4 linked regions of the Homo sapiens genome follow. The protein of the gene in region 4 interacts with the protein of the main gene of each other region in a pairwise test. Each region holds a gene or a part of one and is shown on either strand. Other genes may lie near its edges. The genes, in order: IDH1, RAPSN, ATXN1 and TGFBR2.

Region 1 (7,817 bases), on a different chromosome or scaffold from region 4:
ATCTGTGACTCTATGTATATTCCTTCTTTGTTGAACTGCACCTTGTCTCCCAAACTCCAAATTCAGAATTCCCTTTTGCCGTTCTCTCTCTCATAATCTTCATGGACAATCAATGACCAAGCTCTATTCATTCTACCTCAGTTTTTTTTCGATAATCAAAATGAAAATACAACCACATTAGAATATTTATGAGAATCCCATTATCTGGATGAGTGTGTCAAAACCAAATGCTTACAGAAATTTCATGGCCTGTGTTTCCATTTGTGTTTATAACAGTATTTGGGGCCAGACTATTAAAATACTCAGATTCTTTTACTGGCTAAATGAAAGACAAATGATGTCAACACATGAAATATTAACCAAATAGAGAGGGGTGCTGGGCTAAATGAACCATCATATGTCATCCAGTAAAATAGGCCGGCTATGTAAAAAAGAACGTGCACATGGCCAGGTGCGGTGGCTCACGCCTGTAATCCCAGCACTTTGGTAGGCCAACACTGGTGGATCACGAGGTCAGGAGATCGAGACCATCCTGGCTCACATGGTGAAACCCCATCTCTACTAAAAATACAAAAACAAAATTAGCCAGGCGTGGTGGTGGGTGCCTGTAGTCCCAGCTACTCGGGAGGCTGAGGCGGGAGAATGGCGTGAACCCGAGAGGTGGAGCTTGCAGTGAGCTGAGATTGCGCCACTGCACTCCAGCCTGGGTGACAGAGCGAGACTCTGTCTCAAAAAAAAAAAAAAAAAGAACCTGCACATAACCAGTGAACTTCATCTTCCCATTTCAAGAAGTAATTTAATTTCAGCTAAATGTTATTTGTTGTATTTAAGTGATATTAATGGTGATGTATTGTTTTCTACTTTTCTTTCTAGTCATTTTATCTATAAATTTTTTTATTTTACAGTTGTATGAGCTGTCAGCCTAAGGAGCATATATCTAGTTTTATGCATATTTATAGCAATATTTTAATGTCAATCCTAGGGATCTGAAAAATAATTTTTTTAAGAGATAGGATCTCGCTTGGTTGCCCCAGTTAGAGTGCAGTGGTGCAATTATAGCTCACTGGAGCCTGCAGCCTCGAATTCTTGGGCTCAAGTGATCCTCCCACTTAAGCCTCCCAGGTAGGTAGAACTATAGGCGCAAGCTTGCCTGTCTAATTTTTGTTTGTTTGTTTGTTTGTTTGTTTTGTATAAAGAGGGTCTCCCTATGTTGCCCAGGCTGGTTGCAAACTCCTAGCCTCAAGCAATCCTCCTGCCTTGGCCTCCCGAAGTGCTGAGATCACAGACTTGAGCCACTGCACCCAGCCAGATTTTTCAGTGGAAAATCAACTCCTCCATTACTGGCTTAGGAAACACTGTTTTAGATGCTGAGACTCCAATAACTGCCACCTTTACTAGTACATTGGCTTAAAGCCAAATTTGCAGCCATCTCTAGCAAGTGTTTAGGATTTGATATAACATGTTTGATGATTGAATTTGCCTTGGTTCTATATAACATCCTATAGCTATTCATTTTTTAACCTTATTTTTCTCAATTATAGTCAATGTTTTTATTGTGCTATATTTGATGTGTTTTTATGGCTGCCCTACATTATTTTGGGAACAAGAAAGGATATGAATGCTTACTTTCGGTAGGGAGAAAGGGGTAATAAGCAATGTGAACCTGATATAATATAAAGTAATTACAGTCTCAGGTGTCTTAGGGCATCAGATTCAAGATGAAAATTAAGAGTGGAGAAAAGAAAGGGAGATCAGATTGTTACTGTGTCTATGTAGAAATGGAAGACATAAGAAAGTCCATTGTGATCTGTACTAAGAACAATTATTCTGCTTTGAGATGCTGTTAATCTGTAACTTTAGCCCCAACCCTGTGCTCACAGAAACATGTGCTGTATTGAATCAAGGTTTAATGGATTTGGGGCTGTGCAGGATGTGCCTTATTAACAGTATGTTTGCAGGCAGTATGCCTAGTAAAAGTCATCACCATTCTCCATTCTCTGTTAACCAGGGACACAATGCACTGTGGAAAGCCGCAGGGACCTCTGCCCAAGAAAGCCTGGGTATTGTCCAAGCTTTCCCGCAACTGAGACAGCCTGAGATATGGCCTTGTGGGAAAGGAAAGGCCTTACATCCCCCAGCCTGACACCCGTGAAGGGTCTGTGCTGAGGAGGAGTAGTGAAAGAGGGAGGCCTCTTTGCAGTTAAGAGGAAGGTTTCTGTCTCCTGCTCGTCCCTGGGAATGGAATGTCTCAGTGTAAAGCTGACCATTCGTTCTATTCTGAGATAGGAGAAAACCGCCCTGTGGCTGGAGGCGAGATATGCTGGCAGCAATACTGCTCTGTTACTCTTTGCTACACTGAGATGTTTGTGTAAAGTGAAACATAAATCTAGCCTATGTGTACATCCAGGCGTAGTACCTTTCCTTGAACTTATTCATGATACAGATTCCTTTGCTCACATGTTTCCTGCTGACCTTCTCCCCACCATCACCCTGTTGCCCTGCCACACTCCCCTCGCCAAGATAGTAAAAATAGTGATCAATAAATACTGAGGGAACTCAGAGACCAGCGCTGGTGCGGGTCCTTGCACATTGAGCGCCAGTCTCCTGGGCCCACTGTTCTTTCTATATACTTTGTCTCTGTGTCTTATTTCTTTTCTCAGTCTCTCGGCTCCACCTGATGAGAAATACCCACAGGTGTGGAGGGTCAGACCCCCTTCAAAAAGCTCATATACCTCTCTAAACAGTTCTACAGGAATAAATGGAGGTGGCTGCCAATATCCCTTAAGCCACCTCAAAAACCAAGTTGACAAGGTGTATGCTTTTTTCTTTTCTCTCGGGAAAAATACCAGTGCCCTCTGGTGTCCAAAGTGCACCTTGAGTAGTACCACGTAGATCAGTTTATCTTCAAAGAATAATGTACTAATTCAATGTTAGAGATAATTTTTTAAAATAAATTTTGGAGGCTGGGCACGGTGGCTCACGCCTGTAATTCCAGCACTTTGGGAGGCCGAGGCAGGCGGATCACTTGAGGTCAGGAGTTCGAGACCAACCTGGCCAACATGGTGCAACACCGTCTCTACTAAATACAAAAATTAGCTTAGCATGGTGGCACACCTGTAGTCCCAGTTACTTGGGAAGCTGAAAGAGGAGAATCACTTGAACCCAGGAGGCGGAAGTTGCAGTGAGCCGAGACTGCACCAGCCTGTCAGGGCAAGACTCTGTCTCATAAATAAATAAATAAATAAATAAATATTGGAGCATTAAATTCTGGGCAGCAATATACAAGCATGCTATTGTCCTACAAATCACAATATAAAATACTCTTTATTTTCATGTTTTTGAGAGCAATGAACACACAAAATATAATCTCTGGAGGAGACTAAAATTCTTTTTTCAATCCACCGTTTTCTAAGGCTTCACATCTCTAGTCCAACTTCATTGGATCACAGATAATCCCCCGCCAACTGAGCATGGTGGCTCACGCTTGTAATCCCAGGACTTTGGGAGGCCGAGGAGGGCCAATCACTTGAGTCCAGGAGTTCGAGACCAGCCTGGGCTGCTGAAACCCATCTCTACCAAAGGAAAAAGAAAAGAAAAGAAAGAAAGAAAAATTAGTTGAGTGTGATTGTGTGCACCTGTAATCCCAGCTACTCGGAAGGCTGAGGTGGGAGGATCTCTTGAGCCCAGGAAGTCAAGGCTGCAGTGAGCGGTGATCGCTCCACTGCACTCCAGCCAGGGCAACAGAGCAAGGCCCTGTCTTAAAAAAGAAAATAATAAGAATCCCATTCATTATCTTCTAATGCAAACAATCAATGGAGTTTCTAAAGACCTAGACATAGGTGGTGTCAGGACCTGCTTCTGTAACTTTTCCATCCTTTGCATTAGGCAGCGCGGAACCCCCTAGGCGACCCCGCGCTGGCCGGGAGCACTCTTTCTTCAGCCAAAGGTACGTTCCATTACCGCCCCTCGGGGGCGCGCTAGGCAGCGGGCCGGCCAAGCTGCCGCCGCCCAGGGCGCCCTGTCCCGTTCGCTTTTGTGCCGACCTGGAAACACTCTGTGGTGCTCTAGATTGTTACAAAGTTCGGGGTGGTGCAGCCCCAGCGCGCCCCGCTCCCCGGCCTGCAGGTGGCATACAAGTCTCTTCGCTGTCGGGATTCGGGACTGAATCTCTGCCGGGCGGCAACCCCTTCCCCCACCGGGATCACCGGGAAAGTGGCACCATGGATTCTCCATCTTTGACTGTGGCCACGCCCCTCTCGCTGACTCCGCCCATCCCACGGGAATTGGCGTGTGGCGATTGGAGGCGTGTCGGGGGCGGGGCTGGGGGAGGTGGGCTGAGGAGGCGGGGCCTGGGAGGGGACAAAGCCGGGAAGAGGAAAAGCTCGGACCTACCCTGTGGTCCCGGGTTTCTGCAGAGTCTACTTCAGAAGCGGAGGCACTGGGAGTCCGGTTTGGGATTGCCAGGCTGTGGTTGTGAGTCTGAGCTTGTGAGCGGCTGTGGCGCCCCAACTCTTCGCCAGCATATCATCCCGGCAGGTAACCTCAGGCTCCAAGGGGCGGCCCCGGTCCCTGGCTGTGGAGGGGTGGCTCTAATTCCGCAGAAGGCAGGAATGGGGTAAAGGAAAAAAGCGCAGATCTTGGGTGTGGAGGGAGTCAAGGCCTGCGTGCAAAGAAGGGAACAAATCCAGGTATTGAGAATGGGAAAAGAAAAGGGAAGGAGGGGATGCTGGATGCTTGGATATGCAGAAGGTCTGCTTTTGGGCCTGGGAGGGAGAAACTGGGCGGTGAGGAAGTTGGATGCAACGACAAGGGGAAAATCAGGTCTGCACTTGGGTTGGAAAATCGAGGGGTGGAAGTTGCAAGAATGCATGTAGAAGACTAAGCCTGGAGTGTAGGAGGAAGAAAACGTGCAGCAGCTGGGGGCTGGATGCAAAGAAGGCTGTAAGCCGCAGACGGGCGTCTGCAGGCAACTCAGGCGGCGAGGAATAGCCTTGAAGCCGATCCCTCGCGTCCGCCAGGGGGCGTGGAGGGGCGGAGCTCCAGCGGCCTTCAGAGGGGTCGCTAGGCCACACGGGGCGAGAGGGGGCTGGGGGAAACACCCCCGCCAGTTCCGGGTGCCTGGAGTTTAAAAGGTCCCAGCACCAGCGAGGGGAGGGGAGGGGAGGGGCGGGCGTGGAGACCTGGAAGGAGGTACCGATCCAGCCTTGATTGCAGCCCTCTTGCACAACGGCCATAAGGACGGGTGCAGGCCAAGAGCAAGGACATGCAAACCCCAAGACCTGCTAACGGGCGGCGAAGCGGGGGCACGCCCTCGCACACGCAGAGATAAATTGTGCTCCCATGACCTTTATTTGGAAAGTGCCTGCGGGCCTAAAATTGGCCTTTGTCCCACCGAGTACACTCAGCACTGTACTTTAAACCGGATAAACTGGGCTGTCTGGCAGGTACTAAAAACAGCTAAATTCTCCTGTGAGTGTTCTGTATGTTAACACTTTTATTCCTTGTTTTGTTTTAGGCGATAAACTACATTCAGTTGAGTCTGCAAGACTGGGAGGAACTGGGGTGATAAGAAATCTATTCACTGTCAAGGTGAGAATTAGCAAATTTTCCCCCTTCTTCTGTACTTTCTTTGATGTGGCAGTACAGTGTTTAACTGGTCTTGGGGGCAGGCCGAGGCACTGCAAGGGAATGAGTGAGGAATATTTCCAACAACGAATTCCAACAGCTTCCTTGTTTCTTTTAATACAGTGTCTTATCTGCAAGAGATCCTTTTTGCCCAGAAATTATTGTAGTTCATGAACTCGGCAAAAAACAATCTGGCCAAAAACTTGAGGTTGATGAAAATAATATTAAATGGCTCTTTTTTTTCATTAAACTACTCTGTATTGTTATTCCAGGTTTATTTTCTGGAATTGCACAATTATGTTAGGAGATAGGATTCAGCTACTTCATATGAGCTGGTGCCTGCTGGTCTTGGAACAGCCCTTCCTTCTGAAGTTGGGATTGGGTTGGAGACAAAATCTGAGGGGCAACAAAGGTGGAGAAGTCAGTCCAGTGGGGCCTCAAGCCCATCCCATGGAAATCAGATCCAGAAGAAATACAATTATGTTCCACATGGTAGTAACAATAAAGCTTCACTGTTTTAGTTAAAAGATGGTAAAAATTTCATGGCTAAGTAATGTGAGGAAAACCTGAAGCGTCTGAAGTATGCATTATGAGATAAAGAAAGATTACTGCAGAGAGTACAGTTGCTTTAACTGAGAAGGAAATAGTGAACTAAAAAGATATCAGTCTTCACATTTTAGGTACAATATTTGACCTCTATTAACTGTATTTGCCATCAAGAATAAATTGCCATGTCATGACTGTTGCATCATACTATATAGGGACATGGCCATGGAAGTGTATTATCAGGAACCAGATAAGTTCACTGCCTCCTTTTTTGCTTTGTTTTAAAACAAGGATAGGTGTGACAGTGGAATCAAACATGAACTGAATCATATGCTTTCAGCTGTACTACAAATTATACTTGACATTACAAATGGGAAGTAATTGACTCATCCACACCATTCTGTTCATTTCTTTTAGTCTAGTTCAGTTCCAGAAGGTTCCCCCAAAGGAATCTCCTAAACACTAGTAAGAAGAATTCTAGAATTGCGAATTTGGGAAGTGAAAATGGGCCTGGGGATTGGAAATACATCCAGGCTTGTCAAGAAACAGACGCTTACTGTCTACTAATCATTACATTTTTATTTAAAGACCAAATTACTTTAGCTCAATTTTTCAAGAAAGACTATTTTAGGCTTCTTATCTAATAATTCTTTAAAGTCAATTCTCTTGACTTTTTTAGTCCTTAAGAGAATAAAAGCAATTTGCAGCTGTGTTGTTGGATTAAAAAAGAGTTTCGATTAGAGCATCATTAGAAGGAATAGATAACTTTTAGCAGGCTCAGAGCTTCTTCTGCCTCTAGGGACAAGCTGGGACAGTTTCATTTCTTCCAAAGCGTCCAACCTTGCACTTTCTGAGAATCAGATTGATTTGTATATGCTACCCCCACACCCTATCCTTAAAGTGCTGTCTTCCTAGGACAATGCACAGTTTGTCCTATCCCACTCACTAGCAGCTTACCCTTGCCTGTGAACAGCCAGAAGAAGATGACAGGGACATGCTTGGGTCCTGGGCAGTGGCCCTACTGTATAGAGATTCTTCTAATTGAGAAATCACTTTGTTGTATTTAGCCCCACATCTCCAATGTCTGTGTTATCTCTAGGAAAACAGTTCCACCAGGAATTCTTCGTCTCGCTTTTAGACTTAAAGTTTCCCTGAATATGGGTCACAGGAACCAGCTGAATCTCCTCATGGCTAGTTATTTTTATTAAATAACAAAAACAGCCTCTTAAAGGAGGAGAAATGCTAGCACTCACCATTCTGGACATCTTGAGAGCCCAGTAAAATGATGAGTTGGACTGAAGTGTTCAATAAACATGAGATTGTGGAAATAATCTCATTTCTTAAGACAAACCAGTAGTTGAGAATAATGATTGCATTATGAAGGGCACGTTATAGGGTCAGGCTCTGCCACGCTCTAGCTAGGTGGCCTTGGGAAAGCTCTTTTTTTTTTAACAAAGTAAAATGGGGAAATGATGGCCATTTTTTTGGATTGTTATGAGGGCTAGCTCAGAAACCGCGTGTGAAACATAACACAATACTTTGTTCAGAGAAGATACTCAATTCTAATGGTAAATAGAATTGCTGTTACTAGCTTTTTATTCAACTACACATAAATTGAATTGCATGAATTGTTCTTTTAGTAGTCA
Region 2 (7,793 bases), on a different chromosome or scaffold from region 4:
ACCGCACCCGGCCAACCCTGGGTATTTTTGTTCCCTTTCCCCTCAGGTATCTGTGCTGTGCTTGGTCCATGGGGGATTTAATGCCTGGCCCCAGTAGATGCTTAATAAATCTTGGAGTTAGTGAGTGGATAAATGCTGATGGATCCAAGGTGGGATGGGAGGAAACGAGTCACCAAGGATGACAGCCAGGACTTTGTTTTTAGGAAGCAGATGTAAGGGGGAGCCATTCAGTGAGATGAGATAGGACTGGGGCAGGACAGGGGTTTTTAAAAACCTTTTTAATTCTGAAGAAAAGTAAGCTAGGCCTGGTGGCTCACACTTGTAATCCCAGCACTTTGAGAAGCTGAGGGGTGAGGATCGCTCAAGACCAGGAGTTCCAGACCAGCGTCTACAAACAGTTTTTTTTTTTTTTTAATTTGGCAAGGCTCATGCCTATAATCTGAGCACTTTGAGAGGCCAAGCAGAAGGATTGCTTGAGCCCAGGAGTTTGAGAGCAGCTTGAGTCGCATAGCAAGACCCCATCTGCACCAAACTTTAAAAATGAACCAGACATGGTGGCTCACACCTATTGTTTCAGCTACTCAGGAGGCTGAGGCGGGAGGATCGCTTGAGCCCAGGAGTTTGAGGCTGCAGTGAGCCATGAGTGTTCCACTGCATTCCAGCCTGGGCAACAGAGCAAGACCCTGTGTGAGAGAAAAAAAAAAAAAGCCCAAGTGTGGGCTTGTGGGGTGTTCATTGCTAGTGGGATGTCCGTGCTTCTAAATCTTTTCAGTTATCAGAATAATGGAAGTTTATACTGACATTTCCAATTCAAATCTAATGTTTCAGGAGCTCCCCTTAACTTATTTTAAACTTGATTGTCTTTTCTCTTAGATGAAAAATCTTAGTTTCTAACCACATAATTAAATATTTGCTTTACCCTACAAAATACGTAAAATAATTCCAAAAGACAATACCAATATTACTCTAGAAAATAAAGACAACTGAATGAAGTTTAAGATTTCTTTGCTGTTCTTTTGGCTTTTTTTTTTTTTTTTTTTTTTGAGACAGTCTCGCTCTGTTGCCTAGGCTGGAGTGCAGTGGCTCGATCTCGGCTCACTGCCACTTCTGCCTCCCGGGTTCAAGCGATTCTCCTGGCTCAGCCTCCCGAGTAGCTGGGACTACCGGCACACGCCACTATGCCCAGCTAATTTTCTGTATTTTTAGTAGAGACGGGGTTTCACCATGTTGGCCAGGATGGTCTCAATCTCTTGACCTGGTGATCCACCCGCTTCAGCCTCCCAAAGTGCTGGGATTACCGGTGTGAGCCACTGTGCCCAGCCTTGTTTTTGTAATGTATCCCACTATGGGTAAACTGAGTACTTTTGTTCCAAAGTCATTGAAATAATATATATATATTTTTTTTTAGAGACGGAGTCTTACTCTGTCACCCAGGCTGGAGTGCAGTGGCACGATCTCGGTCACTGCACCCTCCGCCTCCCGGGTTCACGCCATTCTCCTGCCTCAGCCTCCCGAGTAGCTGGGACTACAGGCGCCTGCCACCACGCCCCGCTAATTTTTTTTGTGTGTGTATTTCTAGTAGAGACGGGGTTTCACCATGTTAGCCAGGATGGTCTGGATCTCTTGACCTTGTAGTCCACCCGCCTTGGCCTCCCAAAGTGCTGGGATTACAGGCATAAGCCACTGCGCCCGGCCAAAATAATTATTTGTGTGTGTGGTTGTAGTAATATGACACACAGTTAGGGACATTTATTTACTTTTTTTTTTTTTTTTTTTTTTGAGACAGTGTCTTGCTCTGTTGCCCAGGCTGGAGTGCAGTGGCGCGATCTCGGCTCACTGCAACCTCTGTCTCCCAGATTCAAGTGATTCTCCTGCCTCAGCCTCCCAAGTAGCTGGGACCACAGGCACTTGTCACCACACCTAGCTAGTTTTTTTGTATTTTAGTGGAGATGGGGTTTCACCATATTAGCCAGGATGGTCTCGATCTCCTGACTTCATGATCTGCCCATCTTGGCCTCCCAAAGTGCTGGGATTACAGGTGTGAGCCACTGCACCCAGCCTTAGGTTTTTGTTTTTGTTTTTGTTTTTGTTTTTTTTTGAGACAGGATCTTGCTCTGTCACCCAGGATGGAGTGCAGTGGCTCAATCACGGTTCACTGTAACCTAAAACTCCTGTGTTCAAGCGATCCTCCCTCCTCAGCTTCCTGAGTAGCTGGGACTACAGGCACATTCTTCCACATCTGGCTAATTTTTAAATTTTTTGTAGAGACAGTGGTCTTGCAATGTTGCCCAGGCTGATCTTGAACTCCTGGCCTCAAGCTGTTCTCCCAACTCAGCTTCCCCGAGTGCTGGGATTACAGACATGAGCCATTGCACCTGACCTCCATTTTCTATTTTTAGGTATTTTTCAAATTAAATTTAATTTTTTAATCTGTAAAACATTTATGTGGCTTCAAAAGTATGTAATAAGGCATATTAGGAAAAGGGTTTTTTGGGGGGGTTATTGACACTTCTCTTTTGGTCATGTTAACTTGGAGCTGCTTGTTAAATATTAAGTGAAAGATCAAATAGATTTACCTTGAAAAAGAACAGTGAAATGGGGCTTTAGCTGAAGGGAAATGACGTCACGAGAAGGTGGGTTAGTTTTCTTTTTTCTTTCCTTCTTTTCTTTTCTTTTCTTTTTTTTTTTTTTTTTTTTTTTTTTTTGTGAGACAGAGTCTGCCTCTGTCACCCAGGCTGGAGTGCAGTGGTGCAATCTCAGCTCACCATATCCTCGACCTCCTGTGCTCAAGTGATTCTCCCACCTCAGCCTCTTGAGTAGCTTGGAACTACAGGCGTGCACCACTATGCACAGCTGATTTTATTTTTGTAGAGACAGGGTCTCACTAAGTTGCCCAGGCCATTCTCCAACTCCTATGCTCAAGCGTTCCTCCTGTCTTGGCCTCCCAAAGTGCTGGGATTCCAGGCGTGAACCACTGTGCCTGGCCCAGTTTTTATTTTTTAAATGAGATGAGAAATGCCAGACATGTTTGCACGTGGATGGGAAAGATTCTGTAGAAAGAGAGGACCTGACGATGCAGAGACTGCTCATCGGAGGCTGGCATTTGATGGGAACAGGAGCCATCCTCCACAGTGACAGGAAAGGAGGCAGGGAGCGTGGGAGCAGAGGTGCGGAGATGGGAGATCTGGTGGAGACAGGAGGGGAAGGAGCTTCTCCCTGATTTTCTTCCTTTTCCTCGTGGAGTTGAGGCGAGGTCATCAGCTGACCATGAGCAGGTAGAAAATGCATTTGGAAGCTTGAGGAAAAAGTACAAGCCAATGGTTGCATCGCCTCGCTGAGTCTGTCTGATGTTCTTTTGAGCCTGTTGTGCTGCCAGTCTGCCACTGAGCTTCAGTGAACACCTGCTTCCGGGTGCCAGCAGGCAAGCTCTAGTGGAGGGATCTGGTATCTCCCATCCCTGTGCATCTCTGAAGCTGAGGAGCCCATTTGGCATTGGGAGAAAAGAGAAGCCAACTGTGTTTTCTTGTCTTTTCATTCATTCACTCAACAAATATTTATTGTGCATCTACCAAGTGCCAAGAACTGTGCTAGGCTCTTGGGATGCGTCACAAACCAGATGAGAATCCCTGAGTCCACAGAGCGACACCTTTGCACTGGCTGTTCCCTCTACCGGGCCACTCTTGTCCTGGATGTCACAATGAATGAGCAGACACTCGGGCCCCCTGCCCCTACCTGCTGTTAGAGAAACCTAGCCCAGGAGCCCTTGACTTGGGGCAGCCTCTGCCACTCAGTTTGCCTCCTTCCATTCCATGTCCCCTGCAGGACTACGAGAAAGCCCTGTTCTTCCCCTGCAAGGCGGCAGAGCTTGTCAACAACTATGGCAAAGGCTGGAGCCTGAAGTACCGGGCCATGAGCCAGTACCACATGGCCGTGGCCTATCGCCTGCTGGGCCGCCTGGGCAGTGCCATGGAGTGTTGTGAGGTGGGGCAGCGGGGAAGGGGGCAGGTCGGGGATGAGGTGGTGTGGGCCAGGGGCTGGGGCCTGGGACAGCAGGGCTTCCTTCTTCCAAATCAGCCCATGGAAGCCCCCTAGGGCTTGCCTCTGGCCCAGCCTCTCTAAAGGCGTGCACCACCATGCACAGCTAATTTTATTTTTGTAGAGACGGGGTCTCACTAAACCACCCTCCTGTGCTGAAGCGATCCTCGTGTCTTGGCCTCCCAAAGTGCTGGGATTCCAGGCATGAGCCACTTGTGCCTGGCCCAGTTTTTATTTTTTAAATGAGATGAGTTCTCTACAGCTGAACCCCTGAAGGAAACATTTGTCCCCCAGCCTCATCCCAAACCCACTCCCTTCCAATCCATCTGCAGGGGAGGGGGCTTCCTTCTGCCCCAACACCCTATATGGGGTACTTTGAAGGGTAGAGACGGAAGAGGGCCAGTTTCTGGAGTCCCACTGACCTGGGTTCACATCCCAGCTTTGTCACTTACTGGGTGACCCCAATCAAGTCACTTCTCTTTGAGCCTCACTTTCCACCCACCTTGCTGGGTGCTGTGACTTCAGTGGTTCAGTGTGTGAGCCCTCAGCACCATGATAGATTCACTAGGCTCTGAGGATGTTGCTTCCCTGGGCTGTCCCTTCAGAGGGGTCTGTTGAGGGGAGGGCACTCCAGTGGTGGTGGCAGAGGAGTAGGCCTGAGCCACTGGCCTCCCTCGCAGGAGTCTATGAAGATCGCGCTGCAGCACGGGGACCGGCCACTGCAGGCGCTCTGCCTGCTCTGCTTCGCTGACATCCACCGGAGCCGTGGGGACCTGGAGGTGAGGTCACCGGGATGCAGGGGCTGGGGGCAGGGGGCAGGGGCACAGGCCTGATACAGCCTGATTCCATCCCCCACCTGGCTCTGCAGACAGCCTTCCCCAGGTACGACTCCGCCATGAGCATCATGACCGAGATCGGAAACCGCCTGGGGCAGGTGCAGGCGCTGCTGGGTGTGGCCAAGTGCTGGGTGGCCAGGAAGGCGCTGGACAAGGTGAGGTCGGGCCTTTCCCACAGCCTCCAGCCCTCCCAGCACTCCCCACTTGGGGCCAGTAGGTTAGCCGGCTCTTTCAGCCACTTTGTCTGACGTCAGCCTCACCCTGATCCTACGAGGCCAGGACATTCCTGGTCATTTTCCAGGCTCAGAGAAGGCCCATCACTTGCCCTAGGACCCACAGCTAGTAAAGGGCTGGAACCCTGGGTAAACTGAGGCAGGAGGTCACTTGCCCACACAGCCCCTATGACTGTGCCCTAGTCTCTTCCTGCTGCCTTCACACACAAGGCAGCTGCCATGTCACCCTCCCTAGGCCTGCCCCCCTACCCTGTGCTTCCCTGTGAGCAAGGCCTGTCAGACAGCTCTGCCCGCAGCCCTGGCCTATGCTCACCTTCCAGGCTCTGGATGCCATCGAGAGAGCCCAGGATCTGGCCGAGGAGGTGGGGAACAAGGTCAGACTTGATTCTGTGTCCTGGATCTGGGGTCAAGGGCCCAAGTGGGGAACTTGGGTCTGGGGAAGGGCCTTCCTGAGCCTACTCACGTCATGAGCCCTTCCTGATGCTGGGAGCTGCCTGCAGCCAACCCCATACTCTGGCTCTTTCTCTGCCACACACACAGCACTTCTGAGGGCAGGGCAGAAGTTTCATAGCTTGGAGGATAGCAGAATTCCTCAGAAGCTTCCTGATGTTGATTAAAACCCCTAACAGTGGGCTGGACATGGTGGCTCACATCTATAATCCTAGAATTTTGGGAGGCCGAGGTAGGAGGATCACTTGAGCCCAGAAGTTCGAGAGCAGCCTGGGCTACATAATGAGACCCATGCTCTAAAAAAGAAAAGAAAAGAAAAGAAAAAAACATTTTTGAGATTGAGTTTTGCTCTTGTCTCCCAGGCTGGAGTGCAATAGCGCGATCCCAGCTTACTGCAACCTCTGCCTCCCAGGTTGAAGTGATTCTCCTGCTTCAGCCTCCTGAGTAGCTGGGATTATAGGCACCCGCCACCACACTGGGCTAATTTTTGTATTTTTTATAGAGATGGGGATTCACTGCGTTGGCCAGGCTTGTCTGAAACTCCTGACCTCAGGTGATCCACCTGCCTCGGCCTCCCAAAGTGCTGGGATTACAGGCATGAGCCACCAGGCCCGGCCTCTACAAAAAATGTTTTAAAATTAGCCAGCTGTTGTGGCACACACCTGAGGTCCCAACTACTTGGGAGGCTGAGGTGGGAGGATAGCTTGAGCCCAGGAGGTCAAGGCTGCAGTGAGCTGTGATTGCTCCACTGCACTCCAGCCTGGGTAACAGAGTGAGACCTTATCTCAAAACAAACAAAAACTAACAGTGGCCTCCACTCCCTGAGCACTGAGCACACACAGGGTCCTTATGGGTACTGGGTCCAGTCCTCACTCTCTCCCTGTGAGGTGAGTACAGCAAGCCCCATTTTACAGATGAGGAAAAGTGAGGCTCAAAGAGGCGTCCAAGGTCCCACACCTACTAACTTGTCTGTTTTAACTACAAAGCCCATGTTCCAAATTTAATAATGGTATCTAGTGCTTGCTTTGGCAGCCCATATTCTGAAATTGGAACAATACAGAGAAGATTAGCATGGCCTAAAAACCAAAACCAAGGCCGGGTGCGGTGGCTCACACCTGCATTTTGGGAGGCCGAGGTGGGCAGATCACCTGAGATCAGCCTGACCAACATGGTGAAACTCTGTCTCTACTAAAAATACAAAAATTAGCCAGGTGTGGTAGTGCACGCCTGTAATCCCAGCTGCTTGGGAGGCTGAGGCAGGAGAATCACTTGAACCCGGGAGGTGGAGGTTGCCATGAACCAAGATTGTGCCACTGTACTCCAGCCTGGGTGACAGAGCAAGACTCCATCTAAAAAAAAAAAAAAAAAAATCGTCATAATCTTATTAAAACCTTAAAATCTTGAAAACAGGTTCACCACTTCTCAAAGCCTTCCAGATGTGCATTTCTACGAGATCCTGTGCACAGTCCAACCAAAATGCCAAAATTTGGTTGGATTATAGCCACTCTGGTTTACCTGGGTATCAGGCTGATCAGAAATGCTGATGAGCTATTGTGTGTATATTTAATTAATAAAAACAGGAAAGCAGATTAATTATTATTTTTTTTTGAGACGGAGTTTCACTATTAGAGCCCAGGCTGGAGTGCAGTGGTGCGATTTCGGCTTACTGCAACCTCCGCCTCCTGGGTTCAAGCGATTCTCCTGCCTCAGTCTCCTGAGTAGCAGGGATTACAGGCACTCACCACCACCCCCGGCTAATTTTTGTATTTTTAGTAGAGATGGGGTTTCGCCATGTTGGCCAGGCTGGTCTCGAACTCCTGGCCTCAGGTGATCCACCTGCCTCGGCCTCCCCAAGTGCTGGGATTACAGGCATGAGCCACGGCGCCCTGCCGCAAATTATTATGGAGTCTGTGCACCAGGTTTGGTCATAAAATCTGTCAAAAACATGGGGTCTCCAGGCAGTTCTGGGGGGTGAAGTCTTCTGATCTCACCCACCGCCTCATTCTGCATGAAAGGAAGCAAGGTCCCAGAGAGGGCAGGACATTTTTCCAAGGTCCATCAGCAAGACAGGGAAGTGGCTGAGACCGGAGCCTACCTGCACTGACTTTGTTCTCATCCCCCACTGGCGCTCTCCACTCCTGCGGGCCCCAGCTGAGCCAGCTCAAGCTGCACTGTCTGAGCGAGAGCATTTACCGCAGCAAAGGGCTGCAGCGGGAACTGCGGGCGCACGTTGTGAGGT
Region 3 (5,642 bases), on a different chromosome or scaffold from region 4:
GGCTCAAGCAGGCCTTGTGCCTCGGCCTCCCCAACTGTTGGGATTATGGGCGTGAGCCACTGTGCCCGGTCTGCTCGCTGAATTTCTAATGAGCTTGAATTACAGGAAGTAAAAATAAATTTTCCACTTACAGACCACTAACCAGTTTAGAGCAAATCTGTAAGGAGTGTATAGATTATGCCACACGAGCGCATGAAGCTACCACATGTTTAAAGACAAGTATACCTCTTGTGAACAGCAGTGTTCAGCTAGGAGGCATAAACATGAACTGAAGAAACCAAGACATCAGGTGTGGCTGTGTGCCTTTTATCTTAGAACCTCATCTCACACGTACTCTTCCCCCCAAAACATTAGCAGCGAAGGCAATGCCTCATGTCACACCTCCCTACCTCCGACCTACCCAGGGAGAACTCGTGAGCGGGGGTCAATAAGGAGGAGGAATTAGCACTCTTTTCCTGGCCTCTTCCTTGAGGACCCAACAGAAGGCAAAGACACACATCTGCAATTGGCACTGTTATTTTATTAGTACGAGTATACTGAAACAATAAACTTGTACTGGTATACAGACAATTTATTTAAAACAATTTTGTTCAAATTTTGAATCAAACATTGTTTTATTATAATAATGAAATAATTTCTACCTAGAAAACCTGCAAGCACCATCAAAGAAAGGGACCATAAAATTCAATAAACAGACTCGAGTGTATCCTACAAATAGACACACCACGATTAGAAAATAGAATATGAATTCTTCCATTTTTTAATATTTGTTTAAAAAAGCTAGTGCAAGTACAATATTTTACACTGGAATTACAGAGAGTATGCACGCATATGGAAAAAAGTTCTCCTGTCACAATAAAAGCTCTTAACTATTATGTATGCACTTAAAATTTTCTTTTCAATAAGGTGCAAAACATCATTCCTTCCCTAGTTCTCCTCTGTACTGGCCATGTCAGTCTGGTAGTGCCCTCAACCCAAGTTCTGGTGTCTGTTTTCCCTTGGCCTGTGGGAGGCATATGGTGGGTAATGATCTGATATTAAAACATCCAGTAGTACGAGTCTCAGAGATGGCTCTGGAGCCAGGACTCCACTGGCTGGAAATGAAGACTGTCTAATCTGAAGGTCACCACAAATACTGACAGGACTATCTTGAAACCTCCTTTCGGCTGACACTAATTTGGGTTTAGAGTTGAGCAGTTCAGGCTGGGGAGATGAGGAAACCCCGCCAAAAAGGGCAGTATTCACAGAACTGAATGCACAGGTATCAAGTTCAAATGCACTAACTAAAGGATTTACCCCACTCCTGGGCCAGAAAACTGAAAGAGTAGGTGGTTCCTGTAAGAACCAGAGAAAACCTGTGCACCGAGCTTCTTGGTAACTGCTCTGAAGACAACAGCTTGAGCTAGTGTCACCTAATACTTGGTATTCTGGAGGACAGTATGTTATCTTGGTAAGGATTACTGTAAACAACACTTCCAACGAAGGCCTTCAGATTGGCCACAGAAAAGGAGACAGGCTCATTGGCCATCCAGACAGCAAACAAACTAAAGGGAAAGAAAACGTGGGTGAAGCCTCCAATGTATCTGCAGTGGAAGACTTGAGTCCTTTCAGATAAGAAAAGTTATGGAAATTCTTAGAGATTGTTGTTATTGTATAGATACTACCTATTGGCCAAATGCACTTAATTTTAATACAGTTGAACCATTTGTATGCAAGTCATGGGGACATGAAAAACTGAAGCCGGTGTTCCCTCCCGCCATTACACAGGAGAAAGTTAGCTACCAGAACAGTTGCCTTCAACGAGAAGGGAGGGGACGAGATTCTGAATTTAAGAATTGTAAGTGGGGGTGCTTAATATCCCCACAGCTGTCCAGTTTCCACTGTCCGGCTTGATTTTTGGACAGGAATACTATTCTGAGAAGATGCTCCGTATTTATTCTGGCCTCTTTATATTAAATAAAAATCAAAATAAAACTAAAATAAAATGAGGCATTTACATTGAAATCATGTTTTTACTCCCCCCATTTAAATGAGGTGTGGGGGGAAAGAAGGTGAAATAATTTTTTTTTTTGTCCCCATAATGAGTCCTGTTTGATTGGTAGCCTGGATCCCTTGTTACAAACACTTCGTGTTCAAGATTATATTCTTTGGGTTTATAGGAACAGGAAGTGCTGAAAATGTCAAACATCATCTCTGAAGAAAAAGAAGTTGCAATGGCTTAAGAGTTTAGACTAAGAAGGGAGCTCAGAGAAGTACTTTCAGCATAGGAATGAACAGTATTCTCAAATCGCAGAATACCGAGTTCCCCTCCCTCAGACGAGGGCTATATGTAACAAAAATAACAATAAGCATAGGTATAGTTTAAGAGCCTTTTACGTAGTAATTCTTCCAGGCCATAACCATACAAATCTGATCATTTAGACATGACAAATTTCTATATACAAAAAAACATGTAACTTTCAACCCTTCTCTGCTTTTTTTTTTTTACAAACAAAGTATGAAACTCATTGTTTCAACAGAGCCATATCTTTCAAACACTGAATGAATCATTTCGACATTCATTTTTCTTTTGTGCAATTTTTTAAAACATTACCTGTACTCCTCAAAGTGAGTGCTTCAAAATTTTGTTTTCTTCAGCTTCTCAAATCAGGTGTACATTTAAAAAAAAATTCCCACAAGGTATAGTGCTACAAGAAAAGATCCTATCATCAGTAAGGTAACGTATTTGAAGCGAGGTCATCTATGTAAAAGAAATCTCAGCTCCGGAGTAGAGGTGTGCAAGTTGTTTGGAGTTTCCCTATGCCAGAAACACAACACTGTCCGTGGAAAAGAGAGGAAACCAACCCAACACAATAGCAGATGCATGTGCTTTATAAAAAAGTATATTCTCTGTATATTTATTACTTGATGTGTTCTTAAATTCTCTATTTCAGAAATTCTGGGTTAAAAACAAATGTGGAAGCAAAGGCCTCCACGCCACTTAAAAAAAAAAAAAGTGTAATTCTCTCCTTTCACATCACCACCGAAGAAACCGAATTGGGCCATGGAGTCTGCTGGCCCTGTTTTCACCTGGTGCAAATTGAAGTGCAAAGGGTTTCAGAAGGCAACAGACCAGTCTGTTGAGCTGCTTGTGGTTCATGAAACAGTAGCCATGACAACCAACACAGCTCAAGAAGCCCGGCCTTCGGTACCGAGAGCTCTGCTTCCTCACCCATATCTGAAATAGCACGGTATTAGTGTCTTCAAAAGCATTGGAGATTTTTCTCTCTATGAAAGAAATAGGTTTCCTTAGTAGTCACAGATGTTAAAGGGTATTGTCAATCGTTTCCTTAAAAAACAAAACAAAACAAAATCCAGAGCTACAACAACAAAAATAAATTTTGGCAACATATTTCAGTAAAGATCAAACTGTGCAAAGAGTGGATTTTATGATTACTAGGAGCTACTGTTCATCTTGAACATGCAGCATTATATTGCAATCTATGCGGTATCTAAGGAGTAATCCACAAGATGCAGGAAATCCAAACATTCCTTGAAATTGTACAACCCTACTCCAGAGCAGTCAAAGTGCTGCTTCTGGACACGTCAGTGTACCACACACACACCTGCCCCGTCCCTGAGAAAGAGGTGTGAAAGGTTCCGCAGAGTCCCTTTAGGGGAGAAGGAGGGATGCTGCCACTTCCTGGTGGGGGGAAAAAACCCAACACACTCACCTAACAGAAAACATAGAGGCTCACAATTCCAAGTTAGAAATGGGATCAACAACAACAGAAATCAAATCATCCCAAACTAAACTGGGTGAGTTAGGGAAAACGAAAAGTTGACCAACATAGAAAATTATCCTGAAAGTCCAAATGAAAATTCAATTTGGATTTCCACTTTAAAAGATCTGAGGTAAGTGGCATCCATCTCTGTATCCCTCCCTCCCCCCTCTGCCCCAGTGTGGCCCAGACAAACTGAAATAATTCTTAAGTTAAACATTCTAAGGAACAGTCATTTTATATATTTAGAAATCCCTAGAAAGAGAGGTTCTTGTTTGTTGGTTTCTTATTAATAGTATTATTTTTTTCTTTTCGCCCTGACTAATTTCTTGGTGATTGTGTTCCATTGTAAACGCAAAAGGCCTGCTGTTACTAGTTTAAAAATGGAAAACAGGAAAGAAAGAACAAAAGACGGCTGTCGGTAAATATTGCAAAGTGGACATAGTACAGAGGCACATGGCTGATCCTTGTAAGCTGAACGGCACCGAAGAATTTCTACCCCTGTCATCGTTAATGTTTGCTACACAGAAGCGGTGACAGAGGCTGCTCTGGGAGCCTCGGGGCCCGCCAACGTCTGCAAACAGGAGGCTCCTGCCCTCTGTGCGTTCTTCCTATTTGAAGAGAAAGCTGCCACAAGGGAGTGGTGACCGTGGGTGGCAGGTGGTCCCCTCCACAGCCACTGGCCAACACGCTCAGAACGCACACACACAACAGGCCACACTTCCCGTCCAGGCTCAGAGGCAGGGCTCCAAGTCTCAAGGACACAGACCCCGAGGAGGGGCCTGCCCACTTGCAGAAAAGACCGTGGAAAATGGGTTGACTCCAGGCTACATGGCTCCAGAGTGCGTCTTAGAAATGAATCTGCCTCCTTCCTCTCCACACTCCACATTCACTATTCCGTGTGGTGACAGGGGACACTGCGGTTCCTCCCCCGGGTCTCCTTGGCTGGCTCTTTCTGCAACGTGGCGGCAGACGCACGGGGCTCCTGAAGGCTCCCCGCCCCAGCACTCAGCATCCGCAGCAGGGGAAAGGTGGGAGGCTCTCTCCCTCCTGGCTCCTTCCCTCCAGCCCTGCTCTGGCCAGAATGGGGAAGATCAACCAAACAAGGAAAAAGCCAAAAGGGAATGAGCTTTAACTATATAGCACACTGGTCAGACTCTATTGGCACAGAAAGTATTGCACATGCTAAAAAAGCAAGAGAATGAAATGGGACAAGTGTTTAGAAAGAACCAATTATTTTATAATTCCTATACCTGAAATAGAACCACAAAAATTATGATGATGTTCCTATTGCTCCAAACCATGTGTGTTTTCCCATCTTAGTGTTGGTTTAGTGGATCCAGTCAATTCAATACTCGAAGTAAGCCAAAAGGTGGTGTGTGTTTTTCTGAGTCCACATGAGTTGTAAATAGTGATATTAATGAGAACAAAGTCTATGTGGCAGCCCGTATTCCTCTTACCATCAAAGGCTAAAAAACAAAAAGAAAAACAAAACCTAATAATTGCAAGTGCCCTGAGCAGAATATATGGAAGATTAAGCAAGTTCTCTGAACAGAAACGTTTAAAAAATACAGCACTAAATAAGCAGTATGACTGCAAGAATGAGCCCACCCAGCTCTCTGCAAGCATGCTGAGAGGGTAATGAAATTCGAGGAAAGTCAAGGAACTATTCTAGCTATTCTAAACCTATTCAAATGTTTTTGGTACACCCCAGAAAACGGTTTATAAAAATCATTAGTCCTGGTGAACCCTAAATGTAAATGAATACTAGACAGCCAAAATGTGGGTTGATACCAGATTTTTTTTTTAATTTGTGAAACGAAGAAAGTACTATTTTCAATGGGGTAAAAGAAAAGTCAGGTATTTGTTCAGTTTAGTTGC
Region 4 (8,678 bases):
TTTATGAGGCGGAAAAAAAGCACGAGTAGACTGAAGATCAGATTTGGGGCCTAATGATGTCTAGTCTCTTACCCTGACAAAATAAGCAGGTTATTAAAGTGATGTGAAGAACCTGATCACTATGACACTTTTACAAATTCTTTGTCCTCAATAAGAATCTATCTACTTCCAGGAACCTGAAAAGTCATATTTTTCAGACCTGAAGAGTTATTGTGCACTTTACAGTTTTCCCCAAAAGAGTCATTTCTTAATTTTGATCATTTAGGAAGAGTGAATCTATTAAGTCAAAAACGAAGAAAAAAAAACTTTCTATTTCTTAGTGAAATTTGTTCTTTTATTTAAATCCTTTGCATACTACTAAACAGAAGTACAGAAGCTACTAAACAGAAGACAGATTTTTGGGCCTTTTTAGGTGACGTAAAAGGAGCTTGTTGTTTATTAAACAATCTCATTACCTGATATATTATCTTGCATTAAGATATTTTGAAAAAATGTTTTCAGTTTACCAATTACGTTAGAGAAATTCTGAAACTATTTACTTACATGAAAAATTAAAATGTAAGTAGAATTAGGTTTCTCGTCTTCAATATATCTGTCTTCAACCATTGGCCAACTTTGAAAATTTAATTTGAATCAAATGAATACAAATTCAAAATGATTCATTAATTCAACCATTTTGAAACTTCAGTTCTATAAAAATATGAAATCTGTGGGCCTTGTAAAACTGTCTAAATACCCAAATAAAAAGCCACCACGTTTTTAAGCTAATTGTTTAAAAGTGTGTATATTGATGAAATGAAAGTGACTCGTGAACTATTGGGTCTGGAATTTGCAAATCATAAACCTTATCCTTGTAAACAGAACCTAACTAACAACATCAGGGCCTGCTAATTTCCTTCTTTTATAATCTGGAACAAAAGTTGTAATGATTTTTAACATCCACAGAAAATTAAGGGTGCCATTTTAAATATTTATTAGCAAAATGTCACTTAGGTTTTAAAAGTCTGGAGGAAAATGAGAGACAATTGAACATTCTGGTACTGCAATGCAGGAAAAACGCCAAGAACGAAACACTAAGATTTTATTAAAACCATAGGACTCAAATGTGTGTCAAGACTTTTTGCTTGCAATAGTGCCTCTTCCTAATTTGATTAAAAGCTTCCATCTCCATGCCACCTTCAATGTATGCCATAATTTTTAAAAAGTTCCCAATCCACTTCAAACACTCTAAAATTTACAACTGACCGTGATGCGCATTTTTTCTAGACAAACCTAAAGGTAAATCTGCCCATGTCCCTGGATAAATAAAATGAGTGCCTCCGGGTGATGTGGACTGTCAACTCCTCTACATTTCATCCAAAGTCTACATGGGTCATCTCCAAGTCACCAGAAGAGCCAGGGGAAAGGAGGGGAGGGGCACGATACGTAAGATGTTAAACATGAAGATGATGTAAAATTACCCAGATTCAAGCTGGCCATTTTACAGATGAGGAAACTAAGGCCCAGAAAAAGCTCTATGACTTGCCCAAATACTCGGTTACCCAGACCACAGCTGCAGATACTGTTATTTGGATCATAGCTGCAAAAAGTCTAACTTTTGGCCGGGCGCGGTGGCTCACGCCTGTAATCCCAGCACTTTGGGAGGCCAAGGTGGGCGGATCACGAGGTCAAGAGATCGAGACCACCCTGGCCAATATGGTGAAACCCCGTCTCTACTAAAAATACAAAAATTAGCTGGGCGTGGTGGCACGCGCCTGTAATCCCAGCTACTCGGGAGGCTAAGGCAGGAGAATCGCTTGAACCCAGAGGCAAAGTTGCAGTGAGCCGAGATTGCGCCACTGCACTCCAGCCTGGTGACAGAGCGAGACTCCGTCTCCAAAAAAAAAAAATCTAACTTTTGAAGTCTCAGAGGTTTTACACTTTCCATAACAAATAGTTAAGAACCCCCATTCCTGCATGCATATATATATTAATATTATATATATTTATATATATAATTATATATATATTTATATATATATAATATATATATATATTTTTTTATTTTTATTTTTTCCTTAAAAACCTTCAGAGACAGCGATCAGGTGGGTAGCCTAGTTAGGATTTTAACCCTTCGGTTTCCAACAAACGATAATTGCATAGAACCATCAACTCCCTGAAGACAGGACTATCTTGTTCCAGGCAAAATCTACAGCCTCTAGCACCCAGTAGGCATTCAGTGAGGGATTCTCGGTTTCACCTGAGCATCTCCACTCCCTATCCATCCATGCCAAGGCGTCAGTGGAGCCAGCTAACTTTCTTTTGGAAATCGATTATTTTCTTGAAACTTGTTTCCAAAAACTCCGGGCCAAGAAGCCGGCCTGAGGGAAAGCGTGGCCGTCTCCAGGAGCTAAGGACTGAGGAGCTGGCCTTTTGAACGGGTGGCTCAGAAAGAGCTGGGTGGGCACGCGGCATCGCCATGGGCGGAGTGGCCCAGGTGCGCTGGCTGCTTTGGCAGCTCAGGCTGCCGCTCCGGGCCGCTGCTCCCCGGCCGCCTTCAGATAACCAACTTCTCAAACTTCCCTTTCCGGGGGTGGGGGCTCGCCTCGAACGCGGCCAACACAACGCCTTTCCTGCTCGCACAAAGGGGACCAAACGTGCCCCGCGCCCCTTGCAACTGAACTTTCCTTCTCTTTTTCAAGAAAAACTCACAATCCCTGCAGCTACGGGAGTCGGGCTGCGTGAGTGTCGCGGGGGAAACTTTCCTCGTTTCCGCCCGGGGGCCGGGTTGCCGGGCCCGACTGTCAAGCGCAGCGGAGAGGCGGGGACCCCAGGAAGACCCCCGGCGCCCCGCCGAGCCCGGGCTGGGGACCACTCACCCGACTTCTGAACGTGCGGTGGGATCGTGCTGGCGATACGCGTCCACAGGACGATGTGCAGCGGCCACAGGCCCCTGAGCAGCCCCCGACCCATGGCAGACCCCGCTGCTCGTCATAGACCGAGCCCCCAGCGCAGCGGACGGCGCCTTCCCGGACCCCTGGCTGCGCCTCCGCGCCGCGCCCTCTCCGGACCCCGCGCCGGGCCGGCAGCGCAGATGTGCGGGCCAGATGTGGCGCCCGCTCGCCAGCCAGGAGGGGGCCTGGAGGCCGGCGAGGCGCGGGGAGGCCCCCGGCGGCCGAGGGAAGCTGCACAGGAGTCCGGCTCCTGTCCCGAGCGGGTGCACGCGCGGGGGTGTCGTCGCTCCGTGCGCGCGAGTGACTCACTCAACTTCAACTCAGCGCTGCGGGGGAAACAGGAAACTCCTCGCCAACAGCTGGGCAGGACCTCTCTCCGCCCGAGAGCCTTCTCCCTCTCCTCGACGTCCAGCCCCTAGCTCTCTCGTAGCTGCCAATCATGTTTCCTAGACCAGCCCCTCCGAGAGCTTTGGCCGACTTTCAGCTGCCCCTCACCGCCCTCCCACACCACTCAGGAGTTCCTCGCTCCAAGTATTTACTCAAGAATGACTAAGTGCACACAGTTCACAAAGTAACAACAGAAAACGTCCACGTTTTCCCTAGTAGATCAGAACATCTGCCGCCTCCCCTCAGCTTTCTTCAGATTGCTCCTAGGTGCTTTAGAGATGCGTTTTCAAATTGCAAGTTGAGATCCAGGAGTGAATACTCCAATCTATTGAGTCGCGAGCACATTTCTTTCCCAAATAAAATAGTAACGGTAAATTCTACTTCATTAAATTTGTGCTTCAGTTGTGTCTATATGCATGTATGTATGTGCATACACTGTCAAGTTGTAAAATGTTTTTCTTTAGGTCGAAGTCTAGAGGTTTTTCTCAAGTTTTAATGTACATATTGATCACCTGGAAATCTTATTTAAAAATGCAGATTCTAATTCAGTAGGTCTAGGAGGCAGGCAGAGATTCTGCATTTCTAATGAGCACCTGGATAGAGCGTCCCATTTTGCACCGCCTCTTCCCGGGACTGAGTCAGTGAGTAATTGTAAATGATCACCTATCACGAAGTGATAGTGGTGGGAAATGTAATTTTCAGAATGTATAGAGTATAGCAGAAACTGTAAAATTAAAAGTGGGTTGGGAGTCACCTGAATGCTTGTGCTTTTATTCCCTTAATGCAGGTGAAGAAAGAGAATACTTACCCTCTCATGTGCAAACGGGGTAACATGGGAGCAGAACAGTATAAACTTTCAAATTTCCTTTCTTGCTAGGGCAACCAGATTTGCCCAAGACATTCCTGGTGTACATGTTTTGTAGTTTAAATATTAATAGAACCCCCTTTCTCTTTCAGATATGTCCTGATTGGATAATAAACTATGTGATCAACCTACTTCCCACTCTCAAAGATATGATTCTGTACAGCCCTCTGGTCAGTAGATCTTCTAGCAATTCATTTAATGAATTCCTTTACCTGAGAGGAAGATTGCAGAGGCAAGGGTTTGTGCCAGGGTCTCCAGGGAATAAAGGTAAATAGCCCTCCCCCAAACCCAACTCCCAAATCTTTCCTGTCATTCTAAGTGTTCATTTGCTTCATCCTGGAATTTTAACTCATGCTCCACCTAGCACCCAAGCTGCCTCTGGATGTTTTGCCACTTCCCAGTACTCATGTTGAAGATGCAGAAAGTGCAGTGAAATCAGGAGGGCTAGGCATCTTCTTTCCCACCAATTAATTGCCTTGCCAAAGCTGGAGTGACTTTGTCAATGGAGGAAGATTGAGTTCCAAATCTTCTCCCTATTCCCTCTTCTGCCACCAGCCCATGCCACTGCCATGGCTTGTGTAGGAGTCTCCCACGAGTCACCCTCAGCCACGGCCGTTCTGGGCTCTTTCACTCAGTTTCTCAAACGAGAGCTGAATTCAGCTTTTCAAAATACAAAACTAGTTATACCAACCCTCTGATTAAAATCATTTAATGGCTTCCCACTGCTCTTGAGATAAAGAGAAGATAAAAACCAGATCCTTGAACGTGTCTTCAAGCCTCCAACTCTCCCGTAAACTTTCATTTGGCTTCTCCTTGCTTACTGAAAGCCTTCTCCAAATTTCGTGAATATGCCTCTGTAATCCTCCTACCCTTTATGCTTAGAGCCTTCCCCAGTGTGGACTTCCTTCCTCTGACCTTTTTTTCTTCACCCAGCCAACTCCTGGTCTTCGTGGATTGAATCATAACTTCTTTGATGGGCAAGCTTTCCCTCACCTCCATGAGTAGATCTTGTATTACACGTTCTCTTGGCACCATATGCTTTTCTTTTAACAGCTGTAACTTTATAATTATTTGTGTCATTCTTTAATTTATATTTCTATCCTCCACTCAACTCCAAATTTCTTGAGGGCAGGTATTATGTATCTTTCCCTCCACTTACTATTGTGTCCCTAAGCATCAAACACATAATCGATGTTTAATAAATATTTGTTGGATGAATGAATGAATCAGGCAATAAAGATTTAGAAGAAAATTGTATTTGATTGTTCTAGTTGCTTCATAACTCTGGAGAAAACATTGTTACCGAATATTTGAGATATAAACAGACTACATTTTAGCCGAGAATGATGTCACCACTACTTCCTTTTCTTAAGAATGGAGAAGTATGTGGGTTTCTTTCTTCTTCTTTTTTTTTTCCTACATTTGCCCAAGTTCCTCCAGATAGCAAACATGTACTTTCTTTCTCCTGAAAACACAATGTGGCAAATAAATGTCCAATAGATTCCAAAAGCTTTGTTTTCCTTAATTATCACAAAGATGTTTTACATTGTTGGAGGCTAGATATTTAAATCTATGGTGGAATGTTTAACTGGTGGTCTTTGCCATGATACATCATTAATGTTGATTTTAATTTTGTTTGCCCTTAACATTTCTGATTTAATCTCCAGTCTCCTGTGAAATTGAGAAGAATCAGAATTCAGCATTGCCAAGTGCAAGCTAGCCTTTTGAAAATCATCATAATAAAAATAATAGATGTGTAAACTCATGCATATTGCAATTTGATAATTTTAAAAATTCATCAGGCTGAGTGCAGTGGTCCACACCTGTAATCCCAGCACTTTGGGAGGTCTAGATGGGAGGATTACTTGAGCCCAGGAGTTCGAGACCAGCCTAAGCAACATAGTGAGATTTCATCTTTACTAAAAAAAAAAAAAAAAAAAAAAAAGCCAGGCATGTTGGCATGTATCTATAGTGCCAACTACTCAGGAGGCTGAGGTGGGAGAATCACTTGAGCCCAGGAGACGAACGCTGCAGTGAGCCATGATTGTGCCACTGCACTTCAGCCTAGAAGACAGAATGAGACCCTGTCTCAAAAACAAAAAATAAATAAAAGAAAAAGAAAAAAAAATTGTCATGATGCCCTTCCTTTTGAAATTCTTGTTGAAAGGGATGTCTGATACCCTTAATCAAGACATCATTTTCACACATAGTTGTATATTTGGCTTAGTATAATATTTTGTGTATTCACATAAGCAGTTAATATATACATGTAAAAAACTGGGCCATTTGCAAATGGGAACAAAAAAATAATAGCCCGACTCAGGGTTTAAAAAACAAGGAAGGTAACGTTTAAGCCCTTAATGAGTTGAAAAACAATAAATATCAACTTGAACAGAAATTTTAAAAGCTGACAATCTATTTTACCAGCTTTTTAAACTCTGCACGCACACACAAACACACACAATTGAACTGAATCAAATTGTGGTTTATTTAAACGTTGGGTTTCTCAGTTGTGATGAGAGAAGAACTTCCTACTCCCCTGAGCTTTGTGACATGCAGCTGTTGAGGTTACTGTCAGCTAGAGCAGTTAACAGGGAGATTCCTCTCCTTATAAATTAACCAGCCTCATTCTCAGCTCTTATCTCTTGACCAATTTTCCTTTTATTGTGAAGCAAACCAATAAGCACTGAGACTGTAGTTAATTTGTGAGGGTCATCCACCCTTTGTGGGTCATCCATGATGCTACCTCCTCCAGGAAATATTTTGTGATGCTTCACCTACTGTGATCACTCCTTTCCCAGGGATAACCCAGGGAACATTTCGTTTATTTAGCCTTTTTTTAAAAAAAAATGTTTGCCCCATTCTAACATGGAGTACATTATTGTTATTTATTTGCTTTTTAGAATTCTACCCTAATGATTGTAAAGCCCTTAAAAGCACAAAATATTCCTTTTTCAATGTAGAACCACACTCCGTGCTCTACAGATAATCAGTATTCAGTGTGTGTTTCTTGTCTTCAATAGAGAGAAAAATAAGAATATCAGTTTTCCTAATCCATTCTCTTGTTTGCAGTTCTTCACAGATATTAATAGAACCTGCAATTATGCCACATGTTTACAGAAAGCATCAATAGTATGTTTTGAAAAAAATAACTTTTTGAAAATTACAAGGGTAATACGTGTTAATTATAGGTAGGAAATTTAGATTTTTTTTTTAAAGGCAGACTTTAAAAGGATTCTTAACCCTATTATCCAAAGATAATCCTTGTTAAATTTTGGAGCATGTCCTTGCAGTACTATTCTAATCTTCCCTTTACAAATGAAGAATTTGAGGATTAAAGAGATTAAGTATTTGACAAAGGTCACATAGCTAGTAAAAGACAGAGCCCAGATTTGAACTTAGTCCTGTCTAGTTCCAGACTTGTTCTACACTCTAGAACAAATTGATCAGGTGGTTGATCTTCGCCACCTGACCAGTGAAGGATTTCAGGAAATGCCACTCCAAAATATGCTGCTTTGGTATACTGATTATTTTCAGTTGAAGGCACTTAAAGACCAGCAAATGCAGGGAGGAGGAGAGACATGTGGAACAGATGTGGACCAACCTCCTGATTGAATCTAAGCCAGACCTCCATCAGCCAATCTCAAGCCTACCTCTAGCCAATCCATATGAGTCTGAGTAAGAATAAGTAAATGCCGTTTAAGGAAAAATTTGGGTTGGTTTGTTATCCAGAATTTTTGAGGCAATAGCTAAGAGATATAAGGGATGTGAAGGGTGAGGAATCACGGAAAAGCAAGGTTAAATAATTTGCAGGTGGTAAAACTACAAAGGGGTTCTTATAGACAAAAACTATCATGAGGTTTGTTATGGGGGCTGAAGATGAGGAAGACAGTAGGACTCCAATTTAGACTTTTAGGATCATCTACAAATTAAATTGTACATACAGTTAAAGAATATGGGCCGGGCATGCTGGCTTATGCCTGTAATTCCAGCACTTTGGGAGGCCGAGGCAGGCAGATCATGAGGTCAGGATTTCGAGACCAGCCTGACCAACATTGTGAAACCCTGTCTCTACTAAAAATACGAAAATTAGCTGAGCGTGGTGGCACACACCTGTAATCCCAGCTACTTGGGAGGCTAACGCAGGAGAATCGCTTGAACACGGGAGGTGGAGCTTGCAGTGAGCCAAGATCACGCCATTGCACTCTAGCCTGGGCGACAGAGCAAGACTCTGTCTCAAAAAAAAAAAAGAAAAAAAAATTTAAAAAGAAAATGACCAACACCATTCCTCCATTCCTTGTTTACTTAAAATCCACTCTCTCTCCCATCTTGCCATTAGTTCACTAATTTTGTTTAGGATTTGGATGCAGCTCCTCTTAAGGAAAAGGCCCATCCTTGTCTAAGGGTGGGTATGTAATCCAGGTCCGGTCAAAGCGCTGCAAGAAGAAATCTGATGGGGGCTTGTGGGAAATTTTTTTTCTACCTGATAAGAA

What was found.
Region 1: the proteins of TGFBR2 (region 4) and IDH1 interact in binary tests that used the Homo sapiens proteins (3 or more experiments, as listed by UniProt).
Region 2: the proteins of TGFBR2 (region 4) and RAPSN interact in binary tests that used the Homo sapiens proteins (3 or more experiments, as listed by UniProt).
Region 3: the proteins of TGFBR2 (region 4) and ATXN1 interact in binary tests that used the Homo sapiens proteins (3 or more experiments, as listed by UniProt).

Annotation. Positions count from the first base shown.
Region 1 is NC_000002.12:208,251,658-208,259,474, reverse strand, and holds the start of IDH1 (isocitrate dehydrogenase [NADP] cytoplasmic), read left to right. Parts: upstream 1-4,403; 5' UTR 4,404-4,536; intron 4,537-5,016; exon of another isoform or gene 5,017-5,132; intron 5,133-5,171; exon of another isoform or gene 5,172-5,444; intron 5,445-5,515; 5' UTR 5,516-5,589; intron 5,590-7,817. UniProt on the Homo sapiens protein: Catalyzes the NADP(+)-dependent oxidative decarboxylation of isocitrate (D-threo-isocitrate) to 2-ketoglutarate (2-oxoglutarate), which is required by other enzymes such as the phytanoyl-CoA dioxygenase.
Region 2 is NC_000011.10:47,438,844-47,446,636, reverse strand, and holds part of RAPSN (43 kDa receptor-associated protein of the synapse), read left to right. Parts: intron 1-3,822; coding exon 3,823-3,981; intron 3,982-4,715; coding exon 4,716-4,814; intron 4,815-4,903; coding exon 4,904-5,026; intron 5,027-5,339; coding exon of another isoform or gene 5,340-5,424; coding exon 5,425-5,478; intron 5,479-6,570; exon of another isoform or gene 6,571-6,631; intron 6,632-7,569; coding exon of another isoform or gene 7,570-7,705; coding exon 7,706-7,793. UniProt on the Homo sapiens protein: Postsynaptic protein required for clustering of nicotinic acetylcholine receptors (nAChRs) at the neuromuscular junction. It may link the receptor to the underlying postsynaptic cytoskeleton, possibly by direct association with actin or spectrin.
Region 3 is NC_000006.12:16,298,612-16,304,253, forward strand, and holds the end of ATXN1 (ataxin-1), read right to left. Parts: 3' UTR 501-5,642; downstream 1-500. UniProt on the Homo sapiens protein: Chromatin-binding factor that repress Notch signaling in the absence of Notch intracellular domain by acting as a CBF1 corepressor. Binds to the HEY promoter and might assist, along with NCOR2, RBPJ-mediated repression. Binds RNA in vitro.
Region 4 is NC_000003.12:30,601,158-30,609,835, reverse strand, and holds the start of TGFBR2 (TGF-beta receptor type-2 isoform B precursor), read right to left. Parts: upstream 2,953-8,678; coding exon 2,859-2,952; exon of another isoform or gene 1-2,858. Other genes in the region: translation initiation factor IF-2-like, read left to right, coding at 2,912-3,352. UniProt on the Homo sapiens protein: Transmembrane serine/threonine kinase forming with the TGF-beta type I serine/threonine kinase receptor, TGFBR1, the non-promiscuous receptor for the TGF-beta cytokines TGFB1, TGFB2 and TGFB3.